Linked DNA regions of Homo sapiens. The protein of the gene in region 1 interacts with the protein of each later gene in a pairwise test. Each region holds a gene or a part of one and is shown in the gene's direction. Other genes may lie near its edges.

Evidence for each region.
Region 2: the proteins of FAM24B (region 1) and LEUTX interact in binary tests that used the Homo sapiens proteins (3 or more experiments, as listed by UniProt).

The regions. Positions count from the first base shown.
Region 1 is NC_000010.11:122,869,332-122,873,148, reverse strand, and holds part of FAM24B (protein FAM24B precursor), read left to right. Parts: intron 1-3,817.
Region 2 is NC_000019.10:39,777,334-39,781,886, forward strand, and holds the start of LEUTX (paired-like homeodomain transcription factor LEUTX), read left to right. Parts: upstream 1-1,520; 5' UTR 1,521-1,587; coding exon 1,588-1,594; intron 1,595-4,553.

The DNA.
Region 1 (3,817 bases):
GAAGTCTGTTTTCATCTATACTGAAAATCCATTGTTAAATGTGGCCACCTTCATGAATTATCCTAGCTAGAGCAGCTTCTAGATAACTTGCTGTACCTTCCTGTTACACCTTGCACTTTTATGTTATGGAGATGGTTTATTTTTTAAACCTCATGAACTGACCTCTATTAGCTTCAACCTGTTCTTTTTTTATTTTATTTTATTTTTGTATTGTTATACTTTAAGTTTTAGGGTACATGTGCACAACATGCAGGTTTGTTACATACGTATACATGTGCCATGTTGGTGTGCTGCACCCATTAACTCGTCATTTAACATTAGGTATATCTCCTAATGCTATCCGTCCCCCCTCCTCCCACCCCACCACAGTCCCCAGAGTGTGATGTTCCCCTTCCTGTGTCCATGTGTTCTCATTGTTCAATTCCCACCTATGAGTGAGAACATGCGGTGTTTGGTTTTCTGTCCTTGCGATAGTTTGCTGAGAATGATGGTTTCCAGCTTCATCCATGTCCCTACAAAGGACATGAACTCATCATTTTTTATGGCTGCATAGTATTCCATGGTGTATATGTGCCACATTTTCTTAATCCAGTCTATCATTGTTGGACATTTGGGTTGGTTCCAAGTCTTTGCTATTGTGAATAATGCCACAATAAATATATGTGTGCATGTGTCTTTATAGCAGCATGATTTATAATCCTTTGGGCATATACCCAGTAATGGGATGGCTGGGTCAAATGGTATTTCTACTTCTAGATCCTTGAGGAATCGCCACACTGACTTCCACAATGGTTGAACTAGTTTACAGTCCCACCAACAGTGTAAAAGTGTTCCTGTTTCTCCACATCCTCTCCAGCACCTGTTGTTTCCTGACTTTTTACTGATTGCCATTCTAACTGGTATGAGGTGGTATCTCATTGTGGTTTTGATTTGCATTTCTCTGATGGCCAGTGATGATGAGCATTTTTTCATGTGTTTTTTGGCTGCATAAATATCTTCTTTTGAGAAGTGTCTGTTCATATCCTTCGCCCACTTTTTGATAGGGTTGTTTTTTTCTTGTAAATTTGTTTTGAGTTCATTGCAGATTCTGGATATTAGCCCTTTGTCAGATGAGTAGGTTGCAAAAATTTTCTCCCATTCTGTAGGTTGCCTGTTCACTCTGACGGTGGTTTCTTTTGCTGTGCAGAAGCTCTTTAGTTTAATTAGATCCCGTTTGTCAATTTTGGCTTTTGTTGCCATTGCTTTTGGTGTTTTAGACATGAAGTCCTTGCCCCATGCCTATGTCCTGAATGGTATTGCCTAGGTTTTCTTCTAGGGTTTTTATGGTTTTAGGTCTAACATGTAAGTCTTTAATCCATCTTGAATTAATTTTTGTATAAGGTGTAAGGAAGGGATCCAGTTTCAGCTTTCTACATATGGCTAGCCAGTTTTCCCAGCACCATTTATTAAATAGGGAATCCTTTCCCCATTTCTTCTTTTTGTCAGGTTTGTCAAAGATCAGATAGTTGTAGATACGCGGCATTATTTCTGAGGGCTCTGTTCTGTTCCATCGGTCTATATCTCTGTTTTGGTACCAGTACCATGCTGTTTTGGTTACTGTAGCCCTGTAGTATAGTTTGAAGTCAGGTAGCGTGATGCCTCCAGCTTTGTTCTTTTGGCTTAGGATTGACTTGGCGATGCGGGCTCTTTTTTGGTTCCATATGAACTTTTAAGTAGTTTTTTCCAATTCTGTGAAGAAAGTCATTGGTAGCTTGATGGGGATGGCATTAAATCTATAAATTACCTTGGGTAGTATGGCCATTTGCACAATATTGATTCTTCCTACCCATGAGCATGGAATGTTCTTCCATTTGTTTGTATCCTCTTTTATTTCATTGAGCAGTGGTTTGTAGTTCTCCTTGAAGAGGTCCTTCACATCCCTTGTAAGTTGGATTCCTAGGTATTTTATTCTCTTTGAAGCAATTGTGAATGGGAGTTCACTCATGATTTGGCTCTCTGTTTGTCTGTTGTTGGTGTATAAGAATGCTTGTGATTTTTGTACATTGATTTTGTATCCTGAGACTTTGCTGAAGTTGCCTATCAGCTTAAGGAGATTTTGAGCTGAGACGATGGGGTTTTCTAGATTTACAATCATGTCCTCTGCAAACAGGGACAATTTGACTTCCTCTTTTCCTAATTGAATGCCCTTTATTTCCTTCTTCTGCCTGATTGCCCTGGCCAAAGCTTCCAACACTATGTTGAATAGGAGTGGTGAGAGAGGGCATCCCTGTCTTGTGCCAGTTTTCAAAGGGAATGCTTCCAGTTTTTGTCCATTCAGTATGATATTGGCTATGGGTTTGTCATAGATAGCTCTTATTATTTTGAGATACGTCCCGTCAATACCTAATTTATTGAGAGTTTTTAGCATGAAGGTTGTTGAATTTTGTCAAAGGCCTTTTCTGCATCTATTGAGATAATCTTGTGGTTTTTGTCTTTGTTTCTGTTTATATGCTGGATTACGTTTATTGATTTGCATATGTTGAACCAGCCTTGCATCCCAGGGATGAAGCCCACTGGATCATGGTGGATAAGCTTTTTGATGTGCTGCTGGATTCAGTTTGCCAGTATTTTATTGAGGATTTTTGCATCAATGTTCATCAAGGATATTGGTCTAAAATTCTCTTTTTTGGTTGTGTCTCTGCCGGGCTTTGGTATCAGAATGATGCTGGCCTCATAAAATGAGTTAGGGAGGATTCCCTCTTTTTCTATTGATTGGAATAGTTTCAGAAGGAATGGTACCAGCTCCTCCTTGTACCTCTGGTAGAATTCGGCTGTGAATCCATCTGGTCCTGGACTTTTTTTGGTTGGTAAGCTATTAATTATTGCCTCAATTTCAGCACCTGTTATTGGTCTATTCAGAGATTCAACTTCTTTCTGGTTTAGTCTTGGGAGAGTGTATGTGTCGAGGAATTTTTCCATTTCTTCTAGATTTTCTAGTTTATTTGCATAGAGGTGTTTATAGTATTCTCTGATGGTAGTTTGTATTTCTGTGGGATCAGTGGTGATATCCCGTTTGTCATTTTTTATTGGGTCTATGTGATTCTTCTCTCTTTTCTTCTTTATTAGTCTTACTAGCGGTCTATCAATTTTGTTGATCTTTTCAAAAAACCAGCTCCTGGATTCATTGATTTTTTTGAAGGGCTTTTTGTGTCTCTATTTCCTTCAGTTCTGCTCTGATCTTAGTTGTTTCTTGCCTTCTGCTAGCTTTTGAATGTGTTTGCTTTTGCTTCTCTAGTTCTTTTAATTGTGATGTTAGGGTGTCAATTTTAGATCTTCCCTCCTTTCTCTTGTGGGCATTTAGTGCTATAAATTTCCCTCTACACACTGCTTTGAATGTGTCCCAGAGATTCTGGTATGCTGTGTCTTTGTTCTCGTTGGTTTCAAAGAACCTCTTTATTTCTGCCTTCATTTCGTTATGTACCCAGTAGTCATTCAGGAGCAGGTTGTTCAGTTTCCATGTAGTTGAGCGCTTTTGAGTGAGTTTCTTAATCCTGAGTTCTAGTTTGATTGCACTGTGGTCTGAGAGACAGTTTGTTATAATTTCTGTTCTTTTACATTTGCTGAGGAGTGCTTTACTTCCAAGTATGTGGTCAATTTTGGAATAGGTGTGGTGTGGTGCTTAAAAGAATGTGTATTCTGTTGATTTGGGGTGGAGAGTTCTGTAGATGTCTGTTAGGTCCACTTGGTGCAGAGTTGAGTTCAATTCCTGGATATCCTTGTTAACTTTCTGTCTGGTTGATCTGCCTAATGTTGACAGTGGGGTGTTAAAGTCTCCCAT
Region 2 (4,553 bases), on another chromosome or scaffold:
GGCGGCAGTGAGTTCTATTTTTGTAAATCCCAATTTCCTAGTCACTGGAACAAATCTTAGCAGAGCAGGCATTCAAATAATTAAGCAAACAAATGAAGAAGTGTCAGGGGTGTTTTAACGTTAAGTTCTGCAAAATTCCCTGCTATTGGGGAGGTCATACCCTTTGAATATATCACTCTCTTTCCATCCTCATTAGTGTCATAGGGCAACTCCAGGGACTGATTCTAACATTTAAACGGAAAATTTGAGGCCCACTTTATCCTTTCCGATAGGATTTGGGAGTTTCTACCCTTGACTGTGTTAGAAGTGTTCCTGAATTTTATTCCTGTAAAAGACATAGATGGGGCCAGGTGCAATGGCTCACTAGCACTTTGGCAGGCCAAGGCTGGACGATCTCTTGAGCCCAGGAGTTGAAGGCTGCAGTGAGCTATGATGGCACCACTGCACTCTAGTCTGGGCAACAGAGTGAGACCCTAAAACAAAACGTAAAAAGATACAGATGGGTCCTTCAATCATTTGGCCTTCAGGCTACCTGCAATGTTCCCAGAGACAGAGTTCTTTCGCTAGTCCAAGACTTTTCCAAACCAACCTGGTGGGGGTGTGGAGGTTGCGGGAGAGGACAGAGTTGAGGGGTAGTATAAGATGGGCCAAGACCAGAGTCCCATCTCTGCTTCAGAAAGCTTGGGTCCACATTGAGTGTGGGGAGGCCATATCTCATGGATAGAGACTAGATCTGTCTAGTGAATTACACTCACCCCACAAATAAGACCCATCATGGAGAAGAACGTTAGGGGGAGGAATAAATAAATGAGTTAATAAGGTGCCTGAAAGGTGGAGTAAATGAGTAACAGAGGGACAGAGAGAGGGATGCTCAGAGGAAAGAAAGAAGCATGATTCTTTTAATGCAATTTATATTTTAAGTTTCCTTGCTGAAAACTCGTTATGGGCTCCCCAGCTGCCCCCAAATCCATACTCAAGAGAAGATACAAGATCCCCTATGGTTTAGGCTCTGCCAAGTTCTTCACTGTCATCCATTGCTGTCTCAACTGGAAGAGGTTGAACCGAGATGGGCGGGTGAAGGGCTTAACTCCCATCATCCCAAACTCCTAGCAGGATGCCTCCTGCTGCACTCCGGGTCTCACTGGAAGCCGTCCACGCACAGGGCACCTCCTTCACCTTCCAGTTTGAATCATCTTACCAACTTATTTTTCTCTCAGCGCCTTGTTTATTTACTCATTGATCCCAAGTGACATTTTTGAACATTTTATCCATTTTCAGTTCGCTCCACTTTCTTTTGTTTTCTTCCACTCTCTGGAGTCAAGGATCAGTCTTTTTTTTTTTTTTTTTTTTTAAACATAGTTTTATTCCCAGTGCCCTACACAGCATCAGGCATATAATAGGTTCTAAATAAACAGATATTGAATGGATTATTGGAGGGCGTGGTATTAGGGTAGGACAGGGTGGGGACATGATTACATTAAAATTCTGCTTAAATAAGCGGGTCTTTTAGCCCAGCAGTCACATAGACTCAGCTCAGGAGCTCTGCAGCACACAGCTGATCGAACCCACTCATTTCTAGAGGACACCATGTTTGGTAAGTTGGGCGAAGGCAAGAGGCTGGGGTTTCAGTGATTGGGTTGCAGACAAATCAAGTGAGAGGTGTGGGACCTTGTGGTGGCTTCTTAGAAACCACTGGGTAAATTTAGAAACCACTGGGTTATACCAACAAGGATTGTTTGAAAAACACTTTGCAAGGGATTCTAGTAACTTAGGAATTTGTTTCTCCACATCTCTTTTTTAAAGAGATGGGGTCTTGGTATGTTGCCCAGGCTGGCCTCGAGCTCCTAGGCCCTAGTGATCCTCCCACCTCACCCTCAGGAGTAGCTGGGACTTATAAGTGTGTGCCACCATGTCCCGCTAATTTTTAAATTTTTTGTAGAGACAGGATCTCACTCTGTTGCCTAAGGTCGTCTTGAACTCACATCCTTTTTAATGCCTGGTAACTTTCATACTTTTTAAATGTCAGTCCATTGATGGGTATAAAATAGTATGTGATCTTTAATTCCCATTTCTTTACTAACCCGTGTGATTGAATCTGTTCACTCTATTTTAAAGGCCATTCTGTTTTTCCCCTATGCTAATTTTTATATTTATATCATTTCCCAGTTTTTAGTATGTTTTTTTTCTTGAGGCTTAGTAGAATATTTTTGTTGTCTTCTAGACACTAATAATTTATCTCTTATATGTGTTGCAAATATATTCTCCCAGCCTGGCTTGTGTTTTTCAATTTACTTATGAGTACCGTTGTACAAATATTCTAAAAGTTGTCATTGTGATATTTATCAACATTTTCCTTTTATAATTGTACTTGTAAAACGTAGTTTAGAAGTATATTACTGGCTGGGCATGGTGGCTCACACCTGTAATTCCAACACTTTCAGATGCCAAGGCAGGCGGATCTCTTGAGGCCAGGAGTTCAAGACCAGCCTGGACAACATGGCAAAACCCTGTCACTACTAAAAATACAAAAATTAGCCAGGCATGGTGGCATGTGCCTGTGGTTCCAGCTACTTGGGAGGCTGAGACACAAGAATTGCTTGAACCTGGGAGGCAGAGGTTGCAGCAATCTGAGATTGCACCGCTGTACTCCAGCTTGGGCAACAGAGCAAGACTCTGTCTCAAAAACAAAAAAAGTGTATTTCTTGGCTGGGGACATAAATGTAATTTTAGTTACATTTTATTTTAACTTCTTAAAATGATTTGATTCTAATAGAAAAATTATGCATCAACAAGCTCACTTATCAAAACTTGTACCTGGCTCTTCTAATACATTTTCCTATTGTTTAATACTAAACTTACAAAAATACTAATTAGTCGATTTTACATATTGACCTCTCAGCTTGGTAGATGATTTTAAACTCAAAGCCACATCCTTCCTCGATTTTACCTCCTATAACTTATCAATGTGCAGTGTTGCTTTTCTAAAGACCAGTAGAATTCTAATTACCATTCCTTTGATGGAAATTCTACTTCCCTTTAGAAGCTTCTGGAAATTTCTATATATTCCTGGTATTCTGATATTTTTGCAACAACGATCCTTTTGTTCATTTATTGTGCTCATCGTGGAATGTCTTCATTCTGGAAACCCCTGTGCCTCATCTCTCAAATCTTGAATTTTTTTTAATAAATACTTTCATGATACTCTCTGAAACATTTTTTAGTCAGAGATATTTTTAGTCACATAAATATTGCTAGTGCTGGACATCCCTGAGCAGAGATCTTATTTTTTTCCGACCTTTTCACTCTTTTTGTCCACTTTTGTATACTTTTTCTACTTCCTGGAATAGCTTTGTCTTCCAACTCTTCTATTATTGCCTAAGGGTTTCTTTTTAGCTACTGATTTCAAAGAACATTTGTCTTATCAGATTTTCCTTTCTTTTCAAGACTTTCTTGATGTATGAGTGCAATATCTTTTATCCGAGCATATTAATTTTAACATTTATAGATTTTCTTTTTTTTTGTAATTTTTTTCTAATTGTTTTATATTTTTAGTAGAGATGGGGTTTCACCATGTTGGCCAGGCTGGTTTTGAACTCCTGATCTCAAGTGATTCACCCTCCCTGGCCTCCCAAAGTGCTAGTATTACAGGCATGAGCCACCGTGCCCAGCCTTATTTCTTTTCTTAAGAAAAAATGTGGTTATTTGCTGCTTTCCTCCTCTTCTTTCTTTTTCTCTTCCACTTTCCCTTTCTTTTTTCTCTCTTTCTCTCTGTCTCTCCCTCTCTCCCTTTCTTGCTGTCCCCTTCCTGTTTGAGAATTTTTCTTCAATGTCCTGTAAATTTTTGTTCTCCCTTTGTGTCTAAACAAATGCTGAGACACTAAGAGAAACCCATGTGCCCGATCACTTGTCTTCACTGTGCGATAATTGGGCAGCATGTTGGCTTCTGTTTTTCCATGTATTTGCATGAGGAATAAGAGCATCCTGAAAATAGAAACTTTCCTATAAAATAGATGACCATGAGAATCAGGTTTTACTAGATGATGAGGTCTTATTTATATTCTAAACCATAGTAAAAACTCCCATTATGCACTAATACAGTTTGCATATTTGTCCCCTCCAAATCTCATGTTGAAATGTGATCCCCAGTGTTGGAGGTGGGCCTGGTGGAAGGGGTTTGGATCATGAGAGCAGATCCCTCTGAATGGCTTAGTGCCATCCTCATGGTAATGAGTGGGTTCTCTATCTCTAAGTTCACCTGAGATCTGGTTGTTTAAAAGAGTCTGGGACCTTCCCCTGCTGTCTCTTGCTCCCACTCTCACCATGTAACACCTTGGCTCCCCTTCGCCTTCTGTCATGAGTGGAAGCTTCCTAAGGCCCTCACCAGAAGCAGATGCCAGCACTATGCTTTGTGTATAGCCTGCAGAGCTGTGAACCAATTAATTCCTCTTTTCTAATTTACCCAGTTTTAGGTAATTCTTTATAAATGCAAAATGGACTAACACATGCACCAAGCCTGTAATTAACAGACTTGCTTCTTTGGTTACTCACATCTT